3 linked regions of the Homo sapiens genome follow. The protein of the gene in region 3 interacts with the protein of the main gene of each other region in a pairwise test. Each region holds a gene or a part of one and is shown on either strand. Other genes may lie near its edges.

Region 1 (8,696 bases), on a different chromosome or scaffold from region 3:
AGCTCGATGCCGAGCCCCTGGGAAGCCTGAGGAAGCCCGGAGGGAGATGGGTCCCTAAGAAAAAGCTAGGGCAGCTGCATGCTCTGTACCTGCCCCGTCCACAAGCCCAACATACACACTGAGGGAAAACAAGACGGGCACGTGTCCTTAATGATGACACCACTCCAGAGCCCTGAGCACGGACATGTATTGAAACAAAGCTCCTGCGGGATGCCTCACTATTCCCTGCAGGTGGGAGGGGCTCTGTTCTAGGTGCGAGCCCAGCGCTGGGTCCTCAGCCTAGGAAAGCACCAGGTAGGGGGAACCTGCTAGAGGGGGCACTGGATGGGGCTTGGTCCCTGCCCTGGGGAGCTCAGTGGTTGTAGCAGGCTGGCCAGCTCCCAGAGTCTCTGCCCAGCCCTGGGAAATCATCACCTCCTCAGACAGGGGCCTTAGCACATTGCTCAGGACCTGGGACACTGTGTGCTGGCCCCAGTGCGGGGTTGGAAAGACTGTAAGAGTCAGGTTCCCTCAGGGGCCAGGGAGCCAGAGGCCAGCCTCCCAAGCAGCTCCTCACCTGCACTTCCCGCTTAAGTGGGCAACACCGTGTTTCATTCAACCAGAAGGACCAGAGAAGAGGCCTCCTGGGCTTCAGCGACAGAAGCATCAAAATGCAACTCAGAACTTAGCACTGCCAGGGCCTCCAGCCCATCTCCAAGCAAAACATACTTGAATCCACAGCAGCAACTCCAACATCAGGATGGAAAACGCCCCAATCCACCATTCTAGGGTCGCTCCTGGTGCGAGCGGAACATCCCATCAGTTAAGCAAGCACCACCCTAGGCTGGCAGAGATGCAAACGTGAGCAAGACAAGAACGACGACCTCCCAGGGCAGCTGGTGACAGATACCACAGGACAGAGGCCAATAAGCGGGGCATCTGCGGTCGCCCTGAAGCACAGCTGTGCTCACCAGCAGGGCAGACGGCAGAGGGAGGGGACCACCCAACGTATGCCCGGGGTGCGGCGGTTGCTCAGGGAGAGTGCGCAGCAGCAGGAGAGTGAGTGGGAGGGGGGAGCCTGGAAACGGGAAGGGCCGTTACAGGGGACTCTGACTTCCAGAATGAGGCTCTGCTGCATATCCTCTGGGAGGCTGCATCCTCTTTGTCCCCAAACACTAGAAAGGAGACAATCCCAGTAAACACCAACAAAGCCCCGGAGGCGGGGCGGTGGTGTGTGCAGGGATGTGCTGGCAGAGCACGGATCCTGGGCATCGTTTGAAGAGGGCTGAGGACAGGCACCCGAGCAGCAGCGTCCAGGGGACAGGGAGGCCTAGGAAGCCACAGACTTCACGACGGCCTGGACACAGGGAAGTGAAACTGGGGCATCTGCCCCCCAACTGTGCCGACCGTGGTGGCTTCCCATAGGTGCAGAGAAGCAGCCAAGGGGCTCCATGAGCACCCAGAGGTTGAAGCTGGGCTGACAAGCTGAAGTTCTGGTGCGAGGCAGGGCCCTGCCATTTAACAGCCGGGTGATGTGGGGCAGGTAGCCCAACCTCCCCAAGCTTTGGTTTCCTCATCTGTAAAATGGGAGAACAGTAGAGCCCGCCCTGGCAGTTTCATGAGGAGACAGTGTGCTGTGCTTACAGCCATCAGCTGCTCCCATCAGTAACAACCATGGAAGCGAGAGGACTCCATGCGTGGGGAAGCCAGGGCGGGCCCTGACTGAGGCTGTGGGAGGACTCAGTCCTTCAGAGAAGCAGCCTCCTTCCCATGCGCCTCAGCCAGTCCTAAAGCACAAGGTGGGGCTGACCTGCCCACTCCCTCTACATCTTCCTCTCTGTCCATCTCTGTGCTGAGCCTGCAAACACCCACCCAGCCAAGTCGCCTTCCAAAAACAGCTCTCCTTACATGCCCTCCCGAGGGTCATTCAAAACCTACACTGCAGCCAGAGTCAATGCTTGGTTCCTCACTGTCACAGCACTCTCCTCCTCGGAGGAAGGCTCAACCTCTTGCTAGGTTGGTCTGGCTTCTGAATCGTGACAGTGGCCAATTTATGACCTCCAGGTGAAACCCAGTGCTCTATGAGGACATCTTAAAGCATCCTGGGAAAGGCTGGCCCTTCTCGGCCCAATCAACAGCAAGGGTCTCAATGCCACACCGTGACCTGCTGGTGTCGTCAGGGGCGTGAAAGGACTTCCAGGCACCCTCCTAGTTCCCCTGGCACCAGCTAGCCCAATATCTCTCCAAGGCCCCAGACTCTTGTTTCCAGGAGATGGAGAGCTGTGGCCAGCAGGGCAGGAAGGGGAGACAGCATCCCTGAGGACAGCTGCAGTGTGTGGCACAGTGAGCCACCCAGTCCAAGTCCAGCCTCAATAAACACAACGGAGGTGCTGTGTGGCTGGCAGACTATCCCCTCCCCCAGGCTCTCATCCTTGAGGCAACACCCCCCATCCTGGGTTAGCTGAGAGGCGGCTTCGTCCAGGAAGAACACCGGGTGCTGGACCAGCTCAGCTGGCAACATGCTCTGGGAATGTGAGCAAATCACCTGAGGTCTCTGGACCTCGGTCCCCTGGGTATAAAACCACCGGCTTGGACAAGCTGGTCCTGCAGATGCTCAACTTCCAGGAATCCAGCAGAAACCGACATGGAGAGACTTGGGTTGTCAGGGACCTCTGGGCTGGGGTCACTCAATCCCCAGCTACCCTCCTCAGTCACATCTGGCCCATCCTCCAGACACAGCTGATGTCCCTCCCATGCCTTCCTCCTCTGGGAAGCCTCTGTGACTCAACCACCTGTACTTCTTTTTCCCCGTTTCCCCCCTGGAGGAGAGAAGCAGCACCGGTATGTGTTAAGGAAGAACAAACAGACCAGCCAGACGATCAGGGTTCAAACCCCAGCTCTGCCACTTGCTGCTGAGTGGGCAAGTCCCTTCTCCCCTTTTTCCTAAGGGTGTGAGCTCATTGCATCCCTTGCCGAAGCTGCAAACCCATCCACTCTTTCTAGGATGTTCTCACAACCCCACTTTCCCCCCTGCCCTCTGGAAAGGTGGATCAAGTGGAGAAACAGTAAGCTACCTGCGAGGCTCTGCTGAAGCAACAGGCCACTAAGCTTTTATGCCTGGCGATGGAGGCCGATGAAAGAGGCCGGATCTGAACCCGGGGGCCCGCATGGCCCGTGAGCCGGGCAGGGAGGAGGGTGGCCCCGGCCCGTCTTGAACTGTTTGGAGGCATCTCAGGCCTTGCCCACCTCTGGGAGGCAGCCCAGCCTCGGGGTCTGCCCTGCAGATTCCATCGGCTCAAACCATGATTCCTCTCATTAACAGCAAGTTACTGAGCCTCCCTGTCCCTCAGCTGCTCTAGCGTAAGCAGGGGCTGTGGCTCTGAAACGCGCGGATGCGAGGCGTGTAGAAAAACGCCCGGGACGTCACATGCCGAGCAGCAACCGCCAGCCGCGATCGCCAGCATCGCCGTGCACCGGGGCCCAGCACGGGGCTGAGGGCAGGGGCGGCCCGTGCGCACCGGCTCCAGCCCCCCGCGGCTCCCGGAGGAAGTTTGTGGCCCCCGCGCGGCGCTCTCGCCCGCGCCCCACGTTCCCGGAGTCCCCGCCGCTCCACTCGACTCCGCAGCCGCTTCCCGACTGCAGTCTCAACCCGGTCTCGGGGGGCGGCGGCGCGCGCCGGGGGTCTCCGCGCGCCCGCGGGCAGCCCGGGTCCCGGCCGAGGGGGGCAGCGGGCCGGGGCGGCGCGGGGGCGGGCCTGGCGGGCGGCGCAGAGGGCCGCGTGGGGCCGAACCATGCACTCACCTCCGCGCGATCCGGTAGAGCAACACGCCGGCCGCGGCGCACGCCGTGACCCCCAGGCCGCCGGCCAGGCCGGCCGTGGGGCAGCGGGCCAGCAGCGCGCTCACTCCCTCCATGGCTCTCCGCGTGGAAGGACGGCAGGCCGGCAGGGGGGTAGGCGGGTAGGCGGGTAGGCGGGTAGGCGGGCAGGCGGGCAGGCGGGCAGGCGGGCAGGAGGCGGTGACGCCGGGGGCGCGGGCCGCAGGCGGGACGCGGGGCGGCGACGCGCGCCTCCTCGCGCCGTGACCTTCGCCGCTTTGTAGCGGGCGCGGGCCCGCCCCCTGACTCGGCGCGCTCCCGTCGCGCAGCCAATCGGGACGAGGGGTGAGCCCGGGTGGGCGGGGCGGCGGCGGAAGCGACAGAGCCGGCCGGGGAGCGCCCCCGCGCGGCCGGAGGTGGAAGGCGGCGCGGGGAGGGCGGGGCACGGAGCCCTGTAGGAAAGCCCCGCCTTCTGCCTCCCGCGCCAGCCGCCAGGCCCGGAGGTCTGGCTGCAGACAGTCCACCGAGCTTCTGCTAAGGGGAGCATCTCCAGAGTACGCAACTGCTTGTAATTAGTCTTTTTCCCCCTCGCTAATCCTGTCTAGTCAAACCCAGCCTATGCGCCCAGTGCTGTTTAGCAGCTCCTTGAGCCGCTCTAATGGTTGAAAAACTAGCTTTTTAGAAACACGATCATCCACGGATAGGGACATGGTTGAATAAATCATAGGACAGCCATAGTTCGGAACATAATGCAACCATTAGAAAGAATGCCAGATCCAGGCAGGGCGCGGTGGCTCACGCCTGTAATCCCAGCACTTTGAGAGGCCGAGGCGGGCGGATCACGAGGTCAGGAGATCGAGACCATCCTGGCTAACACGGTGAAACCCCCTCTCTACTAAAAATACAAAAAATTAGCCGGGCGTGGTGGCGGGCGCCTGTAGTCCCAGCTACTCGGGAGGCTGAGGCAGGAGAATGGCGTGAACCCGGGAGGCGAAGCTTGCAGTGAGCCGAGATCGCGCCACTGCACTCCAGCCTGGGCGACAAAAGCGAGACTCCTTCTCAAAAAAGAAAGGAAAGGCAAGGAAAGAGAGAGAGAGAGAAAGAAGGAAGGAAGGAAGAAAGGAAAGAAGGAAGGAAAGAAGGAAAGAAAGAAAGGAAGAAAAGAAAAGAAAGCCAGATCTGGAGTTATTGGCATAGATGGATGATACATTGTTTTTAAAAAGCAACATGCAGGCAGGGCGCGGTGGCTCACACCTGTAATTCCAGCACTTTGGGAGGCCGAGGCGGGCGGATCACCTGAGGTCAGAAGTTCAAGACCAGCCTGGGCAACATGGTGAAACCCCATCTCTACTGAAAATACAAAAATTAGCCGGGCGTGGTGGTGCACACCTGTAATCCCAGCTACTCGGGAAGCTGAGGCACAAGAATCGCTTGAACCTGGGAGGCGGAGGTTGCAACGAGTCAAGATTGTGCCGCTGCATTCCAGCCTGGTGACAGGAGACTCCTTCTGAAAAAACAAAAACGACAACAAAAAAGCAACATGCAGGCCGGGCACATGGTGGCTCACGCCTGTAATTCCAGCATTTTGGGAGGCCGAGGCAGGCGGATCACAAGGTCAGGAGCTGGAGACCATCCTGACCAACATGGTGAAACCTGGTCTCCACTAAAAATACAAAAATTAGCTGGGTGTGGTGGTGGGCGCCTGTAGTCCCAGCTACATGGGAGGCTAAGGCAGGAGAATTGCTTGAACCCAGGAGGCGGAGGTTGCAGCGAGCTGAGGTTGCGTCACTGCACTCCAGCCTGGCAACAGAGTGAGACTCCATCTCAAAAAAAAAAAAAAAAAGAAAAAGAAAAAGAAAAAGCAACATGCAGATTGATTTTTAAATAATATCCAAAGCTTAAATAAAGCCTTATGTGCTTGTGGGAAGTGGAGAATAGTTAACACTGAACTGCAAACTGATTACCTGGTGGTGGGAGGAGATTCAAGGGGAAGAGTCACTGTGTTTCATTATTGATTTCAGCTAAATTACTAGTTTTAAAAAAGTAAACAGAAAATATTTGTATCTAATTACACACTATGTTCCAGTGTTCTGATCACTTTTTTTTTTTTGAGGTTAACATTGTAAACTCTTTGTGGGTAGTGATGGATTGAGGGCAAATGTTTTTTTGCTCCTGCAGCCAGTTCCTCTGTCCACACCGGAATCATGCACATTCACTGGGGGGAAGGGGGACTGGAAAGTGAAGCAGACAGGAAACCTGGAGGTTCACTTGGGTCTGGACCTCCTCTTTCTTGTGAGTATCCCAGCAAAAGCCTTTCCATGCAGTCTTGATGCTTTCACCAGCCATGAGCAAACAAAATAATCATTTAAGGTGTATCTTCCCTCAAAACAGCAGGCAGGCATTGTGTTTAAGTGCCATTTGCTTCCCAAGGAAGATTCAGTTTGCATGTCCCACCCAAAGGACTCTTTATGTGGCCAATTCTATTACGTGCATTAGTTTAAGCACACCTTTATCAGCAGTATCATCCATGGATCTGTAATTCTTAAGTAAAAGGAATGAAATGGTTTGTCAGATCTTGACTTTGAAGTCAGACCATTCCACAGGCTCAGATGCCCCTCTTGCTCTGTCGTCCAGATTGGAGTAGAGTGGCACAATCCCATGGCTCACTGCAGCCTCAACCTCCTGGCCTCAAGGGATCCTCCCACCTCAGCCTCCCAAGTAGCTGGGACTACAGGTGCATGCTCAGCTAATTTTTTTGTAAAGAGAAGGTCTCCCTATGTTGCCCAGGCTGGCCTTGAACTCCTGGCCTCAAGCAATTCTCCTTCCTCAGCCTCCCAAAGTGCTGGGATTACAGGTGTGAGCTACCGCAAGGTGGCTAATGCCTGTAATCCCAGCACTTTGGGAGGCCAAGGCAGGCAGATAACTTGAGATCAGGAGTTTGAGACCAGCCTGGCCAATATGGTGAAACCCTGTCTCTACTAAAAATACAAAAATTAGCCAGGCGTGGTGGCGGGCACCTGTAATTCCAGATACTTGGGAGGCTGAGGCAGGAGAATCGCTTGAACCCAGGAGGTGGAGGTTGCAGTGAGCCGAGATCATGCCATTGCACTTCAGCCTGGGCCACAGAGCGAGACTCCGTCTCAAAAAAAAATTGTTTTAATTTAAAAAATCTTTATATTAAAAAAAGAGAAAGAAAAAAGCACAACAGGATGACTACAGTCAATAATAATTTAATCGTACTTTTGAGACAGGGTCACTCCTGTCACCCAAGCTGGACTGCAATGGTGCCATCTCAGCTCACGGCAACCTCCGCCTCCTGGGCTCAAGTCCTTCATTCTCCTGCCTCAGCCTCTGGAGTAGCTGAGACCACAAGTGCACACCACCGCACCCAGCTTTTTTTTTTTTTTTTAAATAAAGACAGGGTTTCACCATGTTGCCAGGCTGGTCTCGAACTCCTGAGCGCAAGTGATCCTCCACCTGCCTCACCCTCCCAAAGTGCTGGGATTACAAGCGTGAACCACCCAACCCCAACATTAACTGTGCATTTCAGAATAACAAGAGTGTAACTGGATTGTTTGCAACTCAATGGATACACGCTTGAAGGGATGGATACCCCATTCTTCATGATGTGCTTATTTCACGTTGCACGCCTGTATCAAAACATCTCATGTACCCCATAAATATATATACCTCCTATATACCCACAAAAATTAAGAGAAAAACCACAGGTATTTCCCATTTTTAAAGCTAATGAGCCCTTTACAGAGGAACCATCACTTCTTTCCTACTTTGGGTGCCTAAGCAGCTTGCATTTCCATGCCCTGGGGCAGGAGAAGCAGAAAACTAAAATTATAATTGGTTACTATCAAATTTATTCATTCAAGAAGGAGTGAAAACAAAGCAATTTTACACCTTCATATTAGACACAATCTTGGAAAACAGGTTTTAATATGGATATAGGAGGATGTTGCTAAGTGCCATCATCGAATATGAATATTAAAATAGGAATGTGAATATTAAAATTAGATGTTACTCTGTAATTCCAGTGCTTTGGGAGGCTGAGGAGGTAAGATCGCTTCTGGCCAGTAGTCTGAGACCAGCCTGGACAACATAGCAAAACCTCGTCTGCACAAAAAATGAAAAAACATTAGCTGGGCATGGTGGTACTTTCCTGTGGTCCAAGCTACTTGGGAGGCTGAGATGCGAGGATCCCTTGTGCCCAGGAGTTTGAGGTTACAGTGAGCTATGATCTTGCCACTGTATCCAGCTTCAGTGATCGAGTGATACCTTGTCTCAAAACAACAATAACAACAAAGGAAGGGGCGGCGCGGGCCAGGTATGGTGGCTCCCTCCTGTAATCCCAGTACTTTGGGAGGCCGAGGCGGGTAGATCACCTGAGGTCAAGAGTTTGAGACCAGCCTGGCCAACATGGTGAAACCCCATCTCTACTAAAAATACAAAATTAGCCAGGTGTGGTGGCGCATGCCTGTAGTCCCAGCTACTCAGGAGGCTAAGACAGGAGAATTGCTTGAAACCGGGAGGTGGAGGCTGTAGTGAGCCGAGATTGTGCCACTGCACTCCAGCCTGGGAGAGACAGAGCGAGACTCCATCTCAAAACAAAACAAAACAAAACTTCTGGAATAGCATTACTGTCATGTATTGTAAAGTACAGAAGCTTCACTAAAGTCACTCATTTTGACTTCTACGTAGTTGTTGGAGCAATTACACTAGAGTCAAGAACCCCAGTTAAAAGTAAACTCAATTTAAAATAACTTGGAAATATCCTCCTCTTAACCCTACCAGGGTGTCTGCAAGTAAACCTGAAACTACAGTGCATAGGTATTAGAAATGAGTATCTTTCTAGACGTTCAAATTGAAAACCAACCTTCATGTACAATATA
Region 2 (7,913 bases), on a different chromosome or scaffold from region 3:
AAAACCACAATTATATACCATTACACACCCATTACAATGATTTTTTTTTTTTTTTTTTTGAGATGAAGTCTTGCTCTGTCACCCAGGTTGGAGTGCAGTGGCGCGATCTCAGCTCACTGCAACCTCCACCTCCCGGGTTCAAGCGATTCTCCTGCCTCAGCCTCCCAAGTAGCTGGGACTACAGGCACCTGCCACCACACGTGGCTAACTTTGTATTTTTAGAAGAGATGGGGTTTCACTATGTTGGCCAGGCTGGTCTCGATCTGCTGACCTCGTGATCTGCCCACCTCAGCCTCCCAAAGGGCTGGGATTACAGGCGTGAGCCACAGCACCTGGCCAACCACACACCCATTAGAATGGTTAAAAGTAAAATAACTGACAAATACAATGTATCAATGAAGATGTGAAGAAACTGGAAAACCTACATTGTGGTGGGAGTATAAAATTATATAAACACTTTGGAAAATGCTCTGGCAGTTGCTTAAAAAGTTAAACAGACATATAACCTAGTAATCTCACTCCTAGCAATTTTACTACTAGGTATTTGCCCAGGAGGAATAAAATCATATGTCCACACAAAGATTTGTACATGACAGTTCCTAGCAGTTTTATTCATAACAGCCCCAAACTGGAGACAACCCAAATGTCAATCAACAAGTGAATGGATAAACAAATTTTGGTATGTTCACACAATGAAATCATAAGTTACAAATCACTGATAACACAGAAAAAATAGATGAATCTCACAGATATACTGAGCAAAAGAAGCTAGACAGAAGAGTACGTACTATAGTGTTAGAAATAAAATGAGTGTGTATGGGGACAACACTGGTAGAAATGTTCTACAGTTATGTGCCACATAATATGGTCAACAATGGACCATATATATGATGGTGGTCCCATAAGATTATAATACCATATTTTTATTGCACCTTTTCTATGTTTAGATGCACAAATACTTGTTACTGTGTCACAACTGCCTACAGGTTTGTACAGGTTTATAGCCTAGGAACAAGAGACTATACCGTACAGCTAAGGTGTGTAGCAGGCTATACTACCTAGGTTTGTGTAAATATACTCTATGATGTTTGTGAAGGGGTAAAATCAACTAATGATGCAGTTCTCAGAATGCACCCTCATTGTGAAGTGACCCATGACCGTATATTGATTGTGATGGTGATTATACAGATGAGACATTTGTCAAAACTCACTGAACTCTACATTCAAAATCTGTACATTTTATTGTCCCTACATTTGATTTCAATTAAGTTGATTTAGAGAAAAAAATGTGACAGCAAAATATTGAAAAACCCAAATGTTTATCAATAGGATACTGCTTAAATAATGATCCATATAATAAATCCTATGCAGCTGTGGTGAAGGAGGAGGAGGGATGCCAGTTATTGCTATGGAAAGATCCCTGAGATACACAGTTAAGTGAAAAAGGCAAGACACAGATGAGTGTGCATAGTATGTTATCTTTTGTGTAAAAAAAGAGAAACTACATTCACTTTGGCTTGTACAGGCAAAAAGAAACTAGAGGGATACACAAACAATGGGAGTTAACTTTAGGAGGCAGTGAAACTGGGCAGAGGGGAAGGTGGCTTTTTACTATATACCTGTTTGACCTACTTAAAAAATGAAAAAAATTACCTAGGTTCCAGGAAAGGGGTATCTGTTCTAACTTCCCTATACCACATTCCCAATCCTTCCAAATTATATTTAAAATGTGAACAAAGCTATAAAACAGACCTAATTCCATACTCTGCAGCCATGAAAAACATTGAGGCAGATCCTAGGGTACGGTTAAGAGTACAGGCCACAGGCCGGGCATGGTGGCTCAGGCCTGTAATCCCAGCACTTTGGGAGGCTGAGGCAGGCGGATCACCTGAGGTCAGTAGTTTGAGACCAGCCCGGCCAACACGGCAAAACCCCGTCTCTATTAAAACTACAAAAATTAGCCAGATGTGGTGGCAGGTGCCTGTAATCCCAGCTACTCAGGAGGCTGAGGCAGGGAGAATCGCTTGAACCCGGGAGGTGGAAGTTGCAGTGGGCTGAGATCGCGCCATTGCACTCCAGCCTGGGTGATAGAACGAGACTCTGTCTCAAAAAAAAAAGGAGTACAGGCTATAGGGTCACAGTGCTTGATTTCAAATCTCACCTGTGCCACCTAACTTTATGACTCTGTGAAAGTTACTCCTCTGCTCCTGTTTTCTCACCTCTAAAACAGGTTGTTGGGAGGCTTAAAAGAGAAATTACATGTAAAGCACTTAGAATAATAAGCACTCAATAAATACTATGACGACTACGAGGGCAAATCAACTAATAGAATACTATGACTCTATTTCTGTATATATTTGTACATATTTGTATATATAAGTATATACATGTTTGCACATATAAGTATATGCACGGAAGATGTAGTATTCAAACAAATTATTGGGATTGAAAGAGTTTAGCCTACCCTAACTTAAATGTGTTCAGAACATTTACGTTAGCCTACAGTTGGGCAAAATCATCTAACATGAAGCCTATCTTACAATAAAGTGCTGACTATTTCATGTAATTTATTGAATACCATACTGAAAGTGAAAAACAGAATGCTTGTATGAGTACTCACATATCACTTTCACACCATGGTAAAGTCAAAAAATTTTAAGTCAAGCCCTAGTAAGTCAGGGACTGTCTGTAAATTGCTTCAATGTCATCCCTCATCTTCAAACATGTCAGTGGTTTTCTATTACCTTTTGGATCAAATCCAAACTACCTACCAGACCTTGCATGTCCTGGGTCCCGCCTAGCTCTCTGGCCATTCTTGTCCTTCATTCACTATAGACACAGCTTCTTTCAGTCCCACTAATGTGCCAAACTCTTGCTTGACTTCAAATGCTGCTGGAATGCTCTTTTCTGTATTCTTTCCAAATCAGGTTCATGACCATCAGCTCAATTAAATGTTATCTTCTCACAGAGGCTTTCCCAGATCACTCTTATTAAATTAAATCTTTCCTGATTTTTCTTTCTCAACTCATTTGTTTTCTTCATAAAAGTGCCATAATTTAAAATTATTTCATCTGTCTGTTTTTGTTTTGACTCCTCTAGAATGGTAGCTTCAAGAAGGCAGTATCATGGGATATTTTCGTTTTGTTTGTTTGGAGACAGGGTCTCGCTGTCACCCAGGCTGGAGTGCAGTAGTGCTATCTCGGCTCACTGCAGCCTCGATGTCCTGGCCTCAAGCCCTTCTCCCACCCCTGCCTCCTGAGGAGCTGGGACTACAGGCTCATGCCACCATGCTCGTCTAATTTTCGTATTTTTTGTAGAGATGGGGTTTTGCCATGTTGCCTAGGCTGGTCTCAAACTCCTGAGCTCAAGTGATCTGTCCACCTTGGCTTCCCAAAGTGCTGGGATTACAGGCGTGAGCCACTGCACCCAGCTTTGTTTTGTTTTTAAGACAGAATCTCACTCTGTCGCCCAGGCTGGGGTTCCATGTTTATGTTTATTTTTATACACCACCAGGGCCTACTACTATATAGAACTTAACAAATATTTGTTGGGTTAATAAAATGTTATCCCATTTATGAGATGGTTCCTAAAGTAATATTCTCATTTATGGTGACAGTTTCTAAAAACACATATAGGCCGGTGCCGTGGCTCACACCTGTAATCCCAGCACTTTGGGAGGCCAAGGTGGGCAGATCACTTGAGGTCAGGAGTTCGAGACCAGCCTACCTAACATGGTGAAACCCCATCTCATAAAAACTAGCCAGGTGTGGTGGGAGGGACCTGTAGTGCCAGCTACTCCAGAGGCTGAGGCAGGAAAATCGCTTGAACCCAGGAGGCAGAGGTTGCAGTGAGCCAAGGTAATGCTACTGCACTCCAGCCTGGGCGACAAAACAAGACTCCATCTCAAAATAAATAAATAAATAAATACACATATAAAGCTTTAAAATAGGGCTGGGCATGGTGGCTCACACCTGTAATCCCAGCACTTTGGGAGGCCGAGGCGGGTGAATCACCGGAGGTCAGGAGTTCAAGCCCAGCCTGGCCAACATGGCAAAACCCCATCTCTACTAAAATAGAAAAATTAGCCGGGCATGGTGGCATTCACCTGTAATCCCAGCTACTCAGGAGGCTGAAGCAGGAGAATCACTTGAACCTGGGAGGCAGAGGTTGCAGTGAGCTGAGACCATGCCATTGCACTGCAGCCTGGGCGACAAGAGTGAAACTCTGTCTCAAAAAAAAAAAAAAAAAGTTTTAAAATATCACAATGTTATTTCAAGTTACTCTTTTGACAAATGACTATTTATACACAAGTCAATGGCTTCCAAATTTTCACTTGTAATACCCAGTAAGGAAATAATTTTACACTGCAATCCAATAAACACCATATACATGAGATATTATAGGCCAGGCACAGTGGCTCATGCCTGTAATCCCAACATTTTGGGAGGCCAAGGCGGAAGGATCACTTGAGCCCGGAGTTTGAGGCCAGCCTGGGCAACATGATGAAACCCCATCTCTACAAAAAAAATACCAAAAAAATTAGCAGGGTGTGGTAGTACATACCTGTAGTCCCAGCTACCTGGGAGGCTGAGGCGGAGGATTGTTTGAGCCCAGGAGGCAGAGGCTGCAGTGAGCCAAGATGGCACCACTGCACTCAAGCCTGGACAACAGAGCCAGACTGTCTCCAAAAAAAAGAAAAAAAAATACATTATATATAACTGAACAAAGTTTCACAAAATTTTACCCTTGATAAGAGAGATGCACTTTGATATTTTCTATCAATGTCATAAGATATTACAATCATTTTTATGTGATTTTTCTAAACTACTAAATGGTGGAAAGATAATGACATGTACTACTTTCATTCATGATTTCAACAACTCATGAATGCACTGATTCAAACAATGCAAAATTAATCTGCCAGGGAAAGACAATTCAATTATATTACTAATTCTAAACTACCACATTCAAACTCCAGTATCATACTCTAACCAGTCATTAATCAAAAAAATGGTAAGCTACAGACACAGGACACTTAAGATTAGGAACCTCTTGCTAAAGGAGGGGCCCCAAAGTGACATCAGATTGGAAAGAGAAGGATGAATACCAATGTAAATCTTCCCTCTCTCATCTAATAGCAACCCAACTCTTGAAGACTCATAAGCCAAAAACTTTGGTGTTATCCTTGACTCATTTTTCTTTCATTCCCCAAATCTGGCGCATCATTAAATCCTATTGGCTCTTCCATCACAACACATCCAAAATCTGACACTTGTTCTGGTACAACCCACTATCTCTTGCCTAATTACTAAAACAGCCTCCTAACTGGTCTCCTCAATTCTGCCCTTGTCCTCTTAAGAAGGCAAAGCCAGCTGGACTTCCTGGGTGGAGTGGGGACTTGGCAAACTTTTGTGTCTAGCTAGAGGATTGTAAATGCACCAATCAGTATGCTGTAAAAATGCACCAATCAGCACTCTGTGTCTAGCTAAAGGATTGTAAATGCACCAATCAGCACTCTGTAAAAATGGACCAATCGGCACTCTGTAAAATGGACCAATCAGCAGGATGTGGGCGGGGACAAATAAGGGAATAAAAGCTGGCCACCCCAGCCAGCAGCATCAACCTGCTCTGGTCCCTTTCCACACTGTGGAAACTTTGTTCTTTCACTCTTCACAATAAATCTTGCTGCTACTCACTCTTTGGGTCTGTGCCACCTTTAAGAGCTATAACACTCACCGCGAAGGTCTATGGCTTCATTCTTCAAGTCAGAGAGACCAAAAACCCACCGGAAGGAACCAACTCCAGACACACTCTTCCTTCAGTCTTTCACAACAATGTAGTCAGAACGATCCTATTACGCCATTAAGTCACATCATGTCACTCTTCTGCTCCAATGATTTCCCATCTCAGAATAAAAGCCAAAGTCCTTCCTAAAACCTGTGAAGTTGTACATGATTTGTCCTCCCCTGATCATTCTGATCTCATGTGCAACTATTCAACCACTGTGGCCTCCCTGACTGTTCCTCAAACATACCAGACATCCTCCCATCTCAAGGCCTTTGAACTTGTTTCCTCTGCCAGGAATGCTCTATGCTCTTCCTACAGATACCCTCATGGCTAGCTCCTTTACTTTGCTCCTGGCCTTTACTTAGTCATCTTCATAAAGTTATCTCGGCACCATCGCTAAAATTTCAAACCCTCCTCCTCACACCACATAAATATTCCACAGTCCTCTTCCCTGTATTATTTTTCTTTTTTTTTTCATTTGTGACGGAGTCTCACTCTATCACCAGACTGGAGTTCAGTGCCACAATCTTGGATCGCTGCAACCTCCAACTTCTGGGTTCAAGTGATTCTCCTGCCTCAGCCTCCCAAGTAGATGAGAGTACAGGCACATGCCACCATGCCCAGCTAATTTTTGTATTTTTAGTAGAGATGGGGTTTCACCATGTTGGCCAGGATGGTCTCAATCCCGACCTCATGATCCATCCGCCTCGGCCTCCCAAAGTGCTGGGATTACAGGCCTAAGCCACCGTGTCCAGCCCCCTGTATTATTTTTCTTCTTAGCACTTACCACTACCTAATGTAGTATATATTTTAGTTATTTACTCTGCTTATCGTCTGCCTCCTGTGCCATGTAATCTCCATGAGGGCATAGCTGTTTATTCACTACTAAATCCCCAGCACCTAGAACAGTGTCTAGAACATAGTAAAGGCTTAATAAATATTTGAATAAGTGAATGAATGAATAGGCTTGGAATGAACAAGAAAACAGAATAAATAAGAATAGCTAATTAGGCTGAGCACAGTGGCTCACACCTGTAATCTCAGCACTTTGGGAGGCCCAGGCAGGAGGATCCCTTGAGCCCAGGAGTTCCAGACCACACTGGGCAATAGTGGGACCCCAATTCTTTTTTTTTTTTTTTTTGAGACAGAGTCTGACTGTCGCCCAGGCTGGAGTGCAACGGCACCATCTTGGCTCACTGCAACCTCCACCTCCCGGGTTCAAGCGATTCTCCTGCCTCAGCCTCCTGAGTAGCTGGGATTACGGGTGTGTGCCACCACGCCCAGCTAATTTTTTTGTATTTTTAGTAGAGACGAGGTTTCACCATTTTGGTCAGGCTGGTCTGGAACTCCTTACCTCATGATCTGCCCACCTTCGCCTCGCAAAGTGCTGGGATTACAGGTATGAGCCCACACCCAGCCAGTGGGACCCCAATTCTACAAAAAATTTTAAAAATTAGCCAGGCGTCGTGGTGCACACCTTTTCCCAGCTATTCGGGAGGTTGAAATAGAAGGATCACTTGACCCCAGGAGACTGAGGCTGCAGTGAGCTGCACTCCAGCCTGGGTGAAAGTAAGACCTTGTCTCAAAAAACAAAACAAAAAAAACAAAACTGCAGGTAAAGAGCTGCAGCTCAAGCTCCAAGAGAAACCTTGGCACATTAGTGATGTCTCTGGCTATATCAGCATGTGGTTGAAACAGGTTAGTTACTTCTGGAATCTTCACAGAGGAAAAAAAAAAAGAAAGAAACAGGTTAGCAACTATTACTTGAGACTGAATTAATGCTCTCTGTAAGGGCTGAGTGTTCCCTCCAAGCTCACCATCTATTCTGAATCAATCAAGAAAAAAAATGGAGGGAAATAAAACCACAAATGAAAAACATGATTTTTTTTTTCTTTTTTTGAGATGGAGTCTCACTCTGTCACCCAGGCTGGAGTGCAGCAGCACCATCTCACCTCACTGCAGCCTCCACCTCCCAGGTTTAAGCGATTCTCCTACCTTAGCCTCCCAAGTAGCTGAGATCACAGGTGCCACCAAGCCTGGCTTATTTTTGTATTTTTAGTAGAGACGAGGTTTCGCCGTGTTGGCCAGACTGGTCTCGAACTCCTGAACTCAGGTGATCTGCCCGC
Region 3 (5,193 bases):
ATTTGGCTAAGGAGAAAATGTAGGAATAAAGCAAGAGTTTCCTCCAGGCAGTGACAATGGGTCAGGAGTTCAATGAACTGCTCAGTGAGTAAGTGGCCAACCGCCATTTTGTGTGAGCCTTTTGGGTCAGCAGACACTAACCCAAAGGCACTGGCTTGAGATGCTGGAGTCAGAACTATAGGTCCGTAAGCTTCCTCACATCTGAATGCTAATCACTGAATTCCTTTTCTTGCCTGTAGTCTAGAGCCTGTACTTCTAAGGACTGCTGAATAAGGCATGAGGCCACCATAGCTAAGGGCCAATTCTGCTTGACTTCTATTGTATTCCTGCAATTAAGAGAACTCCCCTACCCCTTTTGTTTCATTCCAAGTAACACCTTTTGGTTTAACTGTTAGGTATGGAGTTGTTAGCTTTGCGCCAAACCTAAGCAGAAGACCTGTCAAGGCTACGCTGGGCAGAGGGGAGGATAGAAGTGGAATCATGACCAGCCTGACCAACACGGAGGAACCCAACCTCTACTGAAAATACAAAAAATTAGCTGGATGTGGTGGTGCATGCCTGTAATTCCAGCTACTCAGGAAGCTGAGGCAGGAGAATTGCTTGAACCCAGGAGGAGGAGGTTGCGGTGAGCCGTGATCGTGCCATTGCACTCCAGCCTGGGCAACAAGAGCAAAACTCCATCATCATCTCAAAAAAAAAAAAGTGGAATCGTGAGATTCCTCCAAGGTGCGTGAACAGATAGAGAAGTTTAATGGCAAGTGTCACAGAGTTGAGTCTCATGCAGCTCTCTCTGGCGTGGGAAGGCACCCTTTTCTGGCCAGTGATGATAACATATTAATTTCTAGCACTCTGAAATCCATGCTCCTATCTGTCAGTCAGAATACCCCTCTTCTATTATTTTTTCTGTGCTTTTCTATTTCTCTGGTTAACTTAATATCATGAATTAGATCAAGGTTTATTTTATGTTTGAGCATATTTTCAGTGCTAGTATTCCTGCTTTGGGCCTGGATGACTTCTGCAAAGGGTTAATCTAATCTATTACCTGGGATTTTTTTTTTTAATACTATCACCATTATATGTTGACCTCATTTCATGGTCCTAGAGGGAATCCTTTTATAGTTTCCAACAACCTGACTATACAACTTTACTTTAAATAAAACTGAATGATTGCAAAAAATTTTACCCCAGAGTATTTTTATTAGGGATTCCTGCCACCATATTAACATATAAAACAATCTGGATGTTGACATAGAAATGCAAATTTCACTATACAAAGGTAAGGCTCCAATCACAGTAACATGGCCCCCATATCTCTAGTATTTCAATGAAATAAACTCATTGTGAATTCACCCCGAGTTGTGTTTATAAATATTAGACAAACCACAAAATATATTCCAAATACATAACATTTTACAATATTTTTCAAGCACAGACAAATACATACTTTACTTTACCTACATTGTTTTCATGATCCAACTTGCATTAGCACTAAAGGCAATATTGTGTGTGTATATGTATTTGCCATATGTGTGTGTGTATTATATATATTTATTTATATCCACAAATGTACACTCAGTGGCATTTATGGAAAATTTAACCCTTTCAGGCTGTGGGTTTTACCCACCATAGTATCTGAGAGGGAGAAGAACCAATAATACATCTCAAATTCCTCAATTAGGGCAAAATAAGCACAATTATGCATGAGGGGCATATATGTTGTGTCTATTCAAAGACACACATATATACAGATTCATATATAAACACACATATACCAATAATATGGAATATACATATACTCACACACTTGCTTTAAACTCTATATCTCACTCTATAATATACTGTCCATCTCTGGAAGCAGGCTTTTCCTCATTCGATTCAGGCAACTGGTGACTATCTTCTAACAAAACTTAAATGGATGTTTCTAAAAGGCTCTGATTCTATGCCGAGCAAATGGCATTTCAAGATTCCAGTTTAACTTTTGATGGCTGTTTAAATTCAGCAGACCCTATTCTGTCAACTTCTTCACTTAAAAACATTTCTATTCAACAATGAAGTTTCCACCTAAGAGAAAAGAGATGTTAGCTGGAAATGTTAAAATAATATATTTATTACTCCTTAAGATAAATCTGCATCGTTGGATTACATGTGATATTTATACTATCATATTTTTTAAGTATTTTACAATGGAAAATATATTAGTTCCATAATTTAAAAAATATTATATAATATTATTTTGAAAGACTGAGGGCCAGATGATTTGTCATAGTCAGAACTTTAGAGAAAATTATATGACGCATGATCAGAAGGGGACTAATTTTGTGCAGACTACACTAAAGTTGCCTTATGTCAGAAAGGATGACTTAGAAGTCGTATGAGAAAAGAAGGAGAAAAACACAAATTTCAATTTCAAACCTAGCCATCTGCAAGCTTCCAAAATAAATTGTTGAGGATTCCAATCACAGAAAATATATTCCTAAATCAGTATCAACTTTCAGGTAATAAACAAACAATCTTTATTTAAAAAGCAAAATAAATCACTGAAAGCATATAGGAAAGGAAACCCCTCAAACTTAATGGCAAATATATAGTCATTTGCTCGACTGCAGGCTTCACGAACTGAGTTTCAAAACTCATTTCCAAAATTAAATGTCCAGTGAAGTACTCAGAGCTCCACTGAGTGAGTGGAAATGTATTGCCCAATTTAGAAATCATGCTAATGATAGGGTTGGAATGTCATTAGCTAGAGAGAGCGATTCCAAGTGGGCCCTGTAACTTTGTACATTAGGGCAGTGGAATGTTTTCAATCCACAGAGAAGCTCTATGCTCCATGGCATAAGTTCTAGACTCTTATCTTTCTCCCACATAACACAGTATCAGCAGGTAGTCTGCATGGGAAGGCATCAGTACGTTGCTGATGGTACAATGCTCTAGTACCTTCCTTGATACCATTAAATTGTTGGATTAAATCCTTTCCATCATGGATTTAATGGTATCAAGGAAGGTACTAGAGCACTGGTCCCCTCTACAGTCTGGTTAGGGTCATGTCACTACTTTACCCAGGCTGAACTGGTATGTCATCTCATGAGGCCTCTCCAGTTTCTCTATGGAAGTCAAATTTTAAAACAACTGGGAAAGGAAAGGAGTATAATGACCACCGCAAAACATGATCATGGACATGTATCAAAAAGCCATTCATATTCTCTCTCTCTCTCTCTCTCTCTCTCTCACACACACACACACGCACACTCACATACAAACACATTTTTGAAGTTTCTTCTACAGAATCACAACAAATGGCATGAGGGATCAAAATATTTACCTTAAAGTTTCTCCACTTTTATTTAGATCCACTTAAACATGTTCATGTTAACTCAGACAGCGACTGCACTGCTCTTCACATCATCGAACGCTGGCATCACCATCACTTTCATAAAATAGACCATTCGCCTGTCACCATTTGCCTGCCAGCCTCACCAGAACTCATTTTTGCCACTTTCCATTTCTCCAGTTCCTATCTGCCTTCACTCTTGGGTTAATGTACATTGATATGCAACTGACTAGCACATCTGTTACCTTTTTTCCTTTAAACTCTCACTTTCTTTTTAAAACATCTGCTTCTCCAGCCAAAATATACGGACAGAATACAAATGAAAATAACAAGTCCTCTTGTCCAAATACTTTGAAAAATGGACCACCCTGAGTCCACTTGATGCTCTCAGTTTCTACATCCTCCAGTTCCATCCTCTGTTTTAGCAGCTTACTTACTATAGTGTCTTTCTACCCATTTTCTATCTCCTATGCAGATCATAACAAATTATGGTATTGTTCAGCCAAAAATATTTTTAAAAACAAAGTAGCGCCAAAACATTAAAAAAATTCTGATATACCTTTTGTGCATTAGTCTTACAATCTGTACATGTAAATAACTCCAGGAGGCTTCTTTTTTTTTTTTGCTAAAAATTTACCAAAATAGTTTGAACACATAAAAATATTTTTAAAAAAACAGAACCAAAAACCCAGCATAAATTTAGTTGTATAGGCATTGGTTAGAGGACACTGTTTTCACTAAGGATTATATTCAACAACTTTCTCTTGAGTTGTTACTAAAATTCTGATTCTGAACCTTATAGCTTATAATGGTGCCAACTATTAGAAATGGGAAAATCTAATTCAGTCCAATGTAACATGTATTATGATATAATAGATGAAGGGTATGTCTACACTATAATAAAAAATAAACATATTTTTGGTTATTTAAAGACCATCTTCCTAACCTGTAACTAAAATAACTGTATTTGATTTAAACTTATTTAAGTGCAGTGAATTATGGAAAGCTAACTTAAAGGTTTGAATAATCAATTATGAGTAAGGAACACCTGTTGACAGCCCCGTGACCCTTCAGAACCAGGCATTTGCTGAAAAAAAGAAATCACTAGCATTGAATATAGCCCTTAGTCACGTGAGAGATTAACTTCATGAGCAACCCAGCATGTAGAGGATGAGGTGGACTTTCCCAGCCACCCACTCCTTGAGGGGACAGTAGTATTCATAGTGAAACTGCTCAAACTCTGGTGTCTGGCGGATTTCGCATAAGAAGGAGAGATCAATACCTGACTCCAAAAGGAGGAGGAGCAGGGGAAATACAAAGAGCAGCAGTCCCAGGCCCACCACAAGGAGCCTGGAAAAACTCTTGACCAGTGGGTTCACCCGAATATGGCCAGTCAGAATGTCATAGCTCCACGACAAAGCACGGCGAGCCTCCTTCAGCTCCTCTTCTTCAGCAATCAAAAAGGCGTTTTCATCTGCTTCCAGATCCTCAAATGAATCTGTGTCTTCTCTTTCCAACTCAAGCCTAGAAGGACAGTCAAAGAGCATGTCAATCTCATCGTCATCCACAGGGGTGGGGAGCAGGCTGGCACTTGGGTTGTACACTAGTTCAGAGATGGTTAAAGGTTCTTCTTTTATTTTATCTTCCTCTTCACTAGGGGGATCTTCATACTCCCGGGCTGCCTTCACTGGGGAGCTGGAGATCAAGGGAGCAGAAATGTTCTCCTCTTTAGGCAATGGAACACCTGTAAAGAGACATTTTTTTTTCTAAATTTAAAATTTCAGATTTTCCCACAAAAATCTGCAGGAAGAAACAGAAAAACAAAAAACTAATGGGATTCAAGCAATCTATGAAATTATTCTGTG

What was found.
Region 1: the proteins of FRMD3 (region 3) and TMEM201 interact in binary tests that used the Homo sapiens proteins (3 or more experiments, as listed by UniProt).
Region 2: the proteins of FRMD3 (region 3) and CYB5B interact in binary tests that used the Homo sapiens proteins (3 or more experiments, as listed by UniProt).

Annotation. Positions count from the first base shown.
Region 1 is NC_000001.11:9,584,128-9,592,823, reverse strand, and holds the start of TMEM201 (transmembrane protein 201), read right to left. Parts: upstream 3,914-8,696; 5' UTR 3,894-3,913; coding exon 3,781-3,893; intron 3,469-3,780; exon of another isoform or gene 3,226-3,468; intron 3,218-3,225; exon of another isoform or gene 3,054-3,217; intron 1-3,053. UniProt on the Homo sapiens protein: Critical regulator of angiogenesis and endothelial cell (EC) migration. Promotes the migration of endothelial cells, which is essential for angiogenesis.
Region 2 is NC_000016.10:69,427,009-69,434,921, reverse strand, and holds part of CYB5B (cytochrome b5 type B), read right to left. Parts: intron 1-7,913. UniProt on the Homo sapiens protein: Cytochrome b5 is a membrane-bound hemoprotein functioning as an electron carrier for several membrane-bound oxygenases.
Region 3 is NC_000009.12:83,243,445-83,248,637, forward strand, and holds the end of FRMD3 (FERM domain-containing protein 3), read right to left. Parts: intron 5,073-5,193; coding exon 4,474-5,072; 3' UTR 1,178-4,473; downstream 1-1,177. UniProt on the Homo sapiens protein: Putative tumor suppressor gene that may be implicated in the origin and progression of lung cancer.